2 linked regions of the Homo sapiens genome follow. The protein of the gene in region 1 interacts with the protein of each later gene in a pairwise test. Each region holds a gene or a part of one and is shown on either strand. Other genes may lie near its edges.

The links. The genes of interacting proteins can lie anywhere in the genome.
Region 2: the proteins of MLYCD (region 1) and PHYH come close enough for resonance energy transfer, tested with the Homo sapiens proteins (one large-scale study listed by BioGRID).

Annotation. Positions count from the first base shown.
Region 1 is NC_000016.10:83,902,115-83,905,614, reverse strand, and holds part of MLYCD (malonyl-CoA decarboxylase, mitochondrial), read right to left. Parts: intron 1-3,500. UniProt on the Homo sapiens protein: Catalyzes the conversion of malonyl-CoA to acetyl-CoA.
Region 2 is NC_000010.11:13,290,065-13,293,564, reverse strand, and holds part of PHYH (phytanoyl-CoA dioxygenase, peroxisomal isoform a precursor), read left to right. Parts: intron 1-1,652; coding exon 1,653-1,734; coding exon of another isoform or gene 1,735-1,740; intron 1,741-3,500. UniProt on the Homo sapiens protein: Catalyzes the 2-hydroxylation of not only racemic phytanoyl-CoA and the isomers of 3-methylhexadecanoyl-CoA, but also a variety of other mono-branched 3-methylacyl-CoA esters (with a chain length of at least seven carbon atoms) and straight-chain acyl-CoA esters (with a chain length longer than four carbon atoms).

The DNA.
Region 1 (3,500 bases):
GAAGGCGGTGTGATGGCTGGCATTGGAGCAGCCATCCTGGGCCACGACGTGGCTTTGGAGATGAAGGTTTTTCTCGGCAGAGCAACAAGATTCAAGTCTGAATCCACCAAGAGCACCAAAGAGCAGAATCAGCTCTGGGCTGCCCACCTCTAGACTTTCACATGACAGACAAACTTCTGTCATATTCAAATCACTGTTATTTTGGGTCTTTGTTACTCATAAACTACATAGTAACAGATCCACTGAACATTATTATTAAATAACAGTAAACATCTCAGGACATCTGATACAAGAATGACCTTCTGAATCTCTCTACAAGGGTCATAAAGAACACAATGGGCAACACCTATAAGAATGGCTTTACAACAGCTAGAATTTTTTTTTTTTTTTGAGAGATGGAGTCTTCCTCTGTCACCCAGGCTGGAGTGCAGTGGTGCAACCCTGGCTCACTGCAACCTCTGCTCCCTAGGTTCAAGCGATTCTCCTGTCTCAGCTTCCAAATTTTATAAAACAATTTTACATTTTAATCCCTGTTAAAGGGTGAAAGGACTCAGAACTTTGACGCCTGAGAAAGAGTTGCAGGTTTTGGGGTGATGGCTCAGAGAAGTTTTCGGAAGGAGATGAGGTCTCCTTTTACATGTTTAAGCACTAGGGCACGAAAGAGGCCACAAATTTGTTCTGTGTGACCCCATGGGGGCCGGGGAAGGAAATCTAGGACTGACTGGTGGAAGTCATGGGCAGTCAGATGTGGACTCAATTTAGTGTAAAGAGGAACTTTTGAATAGCTGGAGCTGTCCACAGAGGTCATCCTGGGAGACGGTGACCCTCAGCACTGGAAGCCATCAAGCACAGGTGGACAGAACTCAACGGAGCTGTTTGAAAACGGATTTAAGCATTAGATAGACAGCTGGACCAGAAGATCTTTGCAATTCCTTTTAACTCTACATTCCATGACTCAATCTCCTTTACTTGGTTGTAAACGCCATAAAAGCAGGATCCACTTCTGATTCATTTTTATAGTTCGCAAAGCATTCACTAATAGATTGATATCAAATGAAAAAGATGGAAAAATGGAATGAATCGTGATTAGGAAGTAGCAAGAGGGCAGGATGAAAGAGATCATTTGCTAGGTGACACAGAATGGCCCTTTGTAAAACTGTACTTTCTGCATTTGACTATAGCAATTCTTAATCTTCCTGGGATCCTCTCACACTCTTACGTGCTAAAAACCATAGGCCCTGCCCCCAAAACACTGCAAATACATTAGTAAAATTGTGCATACGTTTTCCTGGGGTACATGGACTCCTCTGATACTTATCTATGGACCATCCCAGGGGCCAGGAGGGCTTCTGTACCCCAGTTTAGGAACGGATGAGCTGAGCTCTGCGTAAGAGGTACTGGTATCTGTCTTACATTCGTGATATGAAAAAAGCTGGAAATACCTAGTTTTACTATCAATTTAATATTAATTATGAAAGAAATGGTTTGGCTGATGAAAGCTCCTCCCCTACAGATCTCTTCATTCTATTTTGGGCTCCTGACAGCTACAAAATGTGACACTGGTACACGAGAACTGGGAATCCAGGCTAAAGGTTAGAAGTCTCCGTTGCTCAGTTCTAACACCGGCAGCAGCTGTTCAGGCTGGGATGAGCCACAGCACGCGGCAACGTTGCCAGGATACAAACACCACCAGGGAAAGAGGCCTCTGCAACTGTACGTGCGTTAATTCAGGCACCATTTATCACCAATACAAGACTGAGAAACACAACTGCGGGGAATATCCTGGTGATGCTAAGGGCAGCGACAGTTCTCAGTGGATTCTGCTGGAGTGTTTCTTATTTTTTTTTTCAGAGGCAGGTCTTGCTCTGTTGCCTAGGCTGCACTTGAACTTCCGGGCTCAGCTGAACCTCCCAAGTAGCAGGGACTACAGGTGCGTGCCACTGCACCCGGCTCTGTGTATTGTGTATTGTTAATTCCATTGACTTGTATGACACCGTTTAGACCAGCCCACTTTTCCTTTTAAAAGAGAAACTGGTTCCCTCTCTTTTGAAGCTCTATCAAGATCTGCTTATTTTGGTATGTGAAGAAAAGTTACCTTCCCTTGTCCAGAAGCCCTGCTCTGGGGAAGGGAGGATAAAGTCATGGATGAGGGTAGCACTGCAGAGGCTGAGAAATTTGGGGAAAATTCCCACTCACGTAAGCTGACACTCCGCAGGTGTACACTTGATGCTATGGGTATACTGTCCTATCTAAAAATAAGTATTATTTAGCATAGGTAAGCACAGAATTTACTAGAACCAACAAGGAGTACTCAATTAACTAAAAGGCAGAGGGTACGCAGGTGTCTAGCATGGCCGGGTGGCTGTGGCAGTGGGAACCAGGTCCCTTCTCTAGTTTCTGTGCCTCTGTTAAGGTTGGAGCACCTCTCATTCCACCCTAACAGCAAGGTCCAAACTGCCCATGAGGAACCCTTTCCATGAATTAAAGGCCAACCTTCCTCGAGTGCCCACAAATCACTGAACCTCGCTCAGACCTTCCCCTCTACTGGGGATTCGACTCGGTTTCACTGGGATTTCACCTCTAAGAAACTGAAGTCATCAACCAACTGGGCCTCTGGAGAAAAACAAAAAGCCTATAAACCACCATCCCCCAGACACATCACATCCTCATACCCACACCTACCATGCAACCACAGGGACACACATACCTCCAAACTCCTCTACATTCAGGAGGCCACAAATCCAGGCAGTAACAAGCCTCCAAACTCACTCAGATCAGAGGAAAAGAACATTTTAAAAAGTAAGAACACAGCCAGGCACAGTGGTTCACACCTGTAATTCCAGCACTTTGGAAGGCCAAGGCGGGCGGATCATCTGAGGTCAGGAGTTCCAGACCAGCCTGGCCAACATAGCAAAACCCCATCTCTCCTAAAAATACAAAAATTAGCCAGATGTGTTGGCAAGCACCTGTATTCCCAGCTACTCAGGAGGCTGAGGTGGGAGAATGGCTTGAACCTGGGAGGCGAAGGTTGCAATGAGCAGAGATTGTGCTGCTGCACTCCAGCCTGGGCAACAGAGCAAGACTCTGTCTCAAAAAAAAAAAAAAAAAAATCAGATTAAAAAAATAGATCAGATCATACCACATTAAGTGATTCTGGTGAGAGGTTACAATATCAGATCCCAGTTGATAGTTTATAGGTACAGAACAATCTAATTCTATTCTAAGACTGATTTAAGCGACAGGGATTTTAAAAAAATTACATCTGGGCTCACACCTATCTATAATCCCAGCACTTGGGATTGGAGGATTGCTTGCTTGAGGCCAGGAGTTCAAGACCAGCCTGGGAAACGTAACAAGAAAAAACATAAACATGAACAAAAAAATAAACACAAACAAAAAACCGTAAACAACAAAACAAAAAACCATATATATATATATATATATATATATATATATATACGCACGCACACACACACACACACATATACACATACATATAT
Region 2 (3,500 bases), on another chromosome or scaffold:
ACTTTGGGAGGCCGAGGTGGGCAGATCACGAGGTCAGAAGTTTGAGACCAGCCTGAGACACATGGTGAAACCCAGTCTCTACTAAAAATACAAAAATTAGCTGGGCATGGTGGCGGGCGCCTGTAATCCCAACTACTCAGTAGGCTGAGGCAGGAGAATCGCTTAAACCCGGGAGGCAGAGGTTGCAGTGAGCCGAGATCATGTCATTGCACCTAGCCTGGGCAACAGAGCGAGACTCCATCTCAAAAAAAACAAAAACAAAAACAAAAAACAAAAAACAAGTGAGCTAACTAAGGGTAGGGAAATCATTGGCTAAATAACAGTACAAGTTATGTCAGAAGTTGTGAGGATGGCTCTTGAATGGCTGGCATTTAGAAAATCCCAGCCTAGATGAATACAAAAAAATACCAGGCTTTATAAAAAGCAAGTGTGTGCCTGACTGCTAGGCTTTTAATAACCTTTCCAGGGTTTCATACTCAAATTGCCAATATTCCTTATACACAAGAGATCAAAAAGTGAGGAAGCAGTAGAAGGTGGCTTATTTTTTGGAGTCTTTTTTTTGCAGAATCAAAATTTGAATATCATGGGTTGTTTTATTTTCTTCTTCTTCTTCTTTTTTTTTTTTTTTTTTGAGACAGAGTCTCACTCTTGTTGCCCAGGCTGGACTGCAGTGGTATGATCTCAGCTCACTGCAACCTCTGCCTCCTGGGTTCAAGTGATTCTCCTGCCTCAGCTTCCCAAGTAGCTGGGATTACCGACGTGTGCCACCATGCCCGGCGAATTTTTGTATTTTTAGTAGAGATATGGTTTTGCCATGTTGGCCAAGCTGGTTTTGAACTCCTGACCTCAAGTGATCCGCCCGCCTCGGCCACCCAAAGTGCTAGGATTACAGGTGTGCGCTAACGCACCCGACCTCAGTGTTGAGCCCTTTCTGCTTTTTCCCTCTCCGTTGCTGGGTTCTGTACACAAGGTAGCGGCAGCCCAGCTCCCAGGCCCCACGACTAAACCAGCTCTCCCTGTCACGGTTCCCCATGTTAGCCTTTTCTTCATAATGCAGTGTCCCTCGGCCACTCTGACCCATGTCATTACTGGGTTAACATTTTTCATCTAACTCCTGGGACCTGCTTTGCTTGTTCACTCTTGCTTCCCCATTTCCCGTCACCTCCTGGTTCCCAGATCTCAGTAATGAGTTGTCAAGTGCCAAGCGTCCCCGATTGTCAAATGTCCTCCAAGCCACCATTCTGCTTTCTTCCGGGCTATTCATGACAGCTGTGAATTGTATGGGACTCTTCGTATGCAGAGGCTCCAATGAGGAAGAGGAAACTGCCCTCCCACTGAGCAACCTTCTGTTGCTTGGGTTGACAAGAAAGCTATATTAATATCTCATCGGAACTCCTATGTTTCTTGTAGAGAAAAAATGGTTTCATTCCCAGCTAGCTCAGAAAAAGCCCATTTCATTCCGTGTTATAGATTTAGAATGATTTCCAATGGCTGGGTTTTTCATGCTTTGTTTGCAATGTTGTGAAATACCGCTTGGTTCTTAAACTATTGCCTTCTTGGTTCTTGTGTGGATAGCTACTGTACTTTGTACCAGTTGTCAATACTTCTGATTTCCCACAAGGTTTGTTTTTGTTTTTTTTTTGCTTTCTTAGATTCTGAAATATGTGGAGTGCTTCACTGGACCTAATATTATGGCCATGCACACAATGTTGATAAACAAACCTCCAGATTCTGGTAATTGTAAGGGAGAAGAAAAAAAAATGGTTTCATTAAAATGTGTAAGGTTGGCTGGGTGCAGTAACTCATGCCTGTAATCCCAGCATTTTAGGAGACCAAGGGAGGAAGATCTCTGAGGCCAGGAGTTTGAGAGTGGCCTGGGCAACATAGTGAGGCTCTGTCTCTAAAAATAAAATTTAAAAATATCCAGGCATGGTGGTATGCACTTGTAGTCCCTGCTATTGGAAGGCTGAGGTGGGAGGATCACTTGAGCCCAGGAGTTGAAGGCTGCAGTGAACCTATAATGGCATGCTCTCCAGCCTGCGTGACACAGTGAGACCCTATCTCTACATAATAAATAAAACAAAACAAAACAAAATAATAAAATAGCTGATGTCTAACTGTAATCATGTGTACAACTGTCAAACTTTGGATAAGGAAGTCTTAAAATAACTTACACTATAACAACAGTGAAATGTGGTAATTATTTCAGATATTAACTGTAGGACTGTTGCTGAATTTTCAGATGACTGGCTCCCCAAAAATGCAGTTTAACCGACATAACTGTTCATATATCAAAGGTTCCTGCCATTCGACGTCTCTAAGCTTGATCAGCTCTTTTTAGCTGTGATAGTGTGGATTCTTGCATTCCTGATAGGAAGACATTATTATTACTAACACAATTAAAATTGTTACTATGAGTCACAAACTATAGTGGTCTTTTTTTTTTTTTTTTTTTTTTTTGAGATGGAGTTTTGCTCTTGTTGCCCAGGCTGGAGTGCGATAGCGCGATCTTGGCTCACTGCAACCCCCACCTCCCAGGTTCAAACAATTCCTGATTCTCCTGCCTCAGTCTCCCAAGTAACTGGGATTACAGGCATGTGCCACCAAGCCTGGCTAATTTTTGTACTTTTAGTAGAGACAGGGTTTCGCCATGTTGGTCAGGCTGGTCTCGAACTCCTGACTTCAGATGATCCACCTGCCTTGGCCTCCCAAAGTGCTGGGATTACAGGTGTGAGCCACCGCGCCCAGCCTATAGTTGTCTTTAAAATGTCTTGTGCTTGCTAAAATGTAGAATCTAAGACCTCATTGGCAGACAGACTGATTGAGAAATATAACCCAGGTTTCTGTATTTTAATAACCTTCCTCAAGCTGGGCGTGGATGTGCACCTGTGGTCCCAACTACTCAGGAGGCTGCGGGGGGAGGATCGCTGGAGCCCAGGAGTTCAAGTCCAGAGATTGTAGTGCAGATCACTTGGACTACACTGGGAAATTCCTCTGTGCCTGCAGTAAAAATCAGCCATGAGAGAGTCCCCCTATCCTTTCTGCCTTTTCTTCCTTCTGATCTGCAGGAGGGGTTTATGTGATAGAAGGCAGCTTAGCATTACCAGGTCTCTCCCTCCTTGAGGAGAGCAGGTGTTCGGGAGCCACACTCAGGGAGCAAACCAGGGGAAAATGTCAGTGTGGTCATGGGCACTCCGACTGGACATGGAATGACTATAGTTGTGGGGGGTGAGGACCTCTTAGATAACTTTTTTTATTTTTATTTTTTTTGAAATGGAGTCTTGCTCTGTTGCCCAGGCTGGAGTGCAGTGGCTCAATCTCGGCTTACTGCAACCTCTGCCTCTGGGGTTTGAGTGATTCTCCTGCCTCATCCTCCTGAATAGCTGGGATTACAGGTGCCCACCACCACACCCAGCTAATTTTTTTTTTTTTTTTTTTTTTTTTTTTTTGGTATTTTTAGTAGAGACAGGGTTTCACCATGTTGGTCAGGCTGGTCTCGA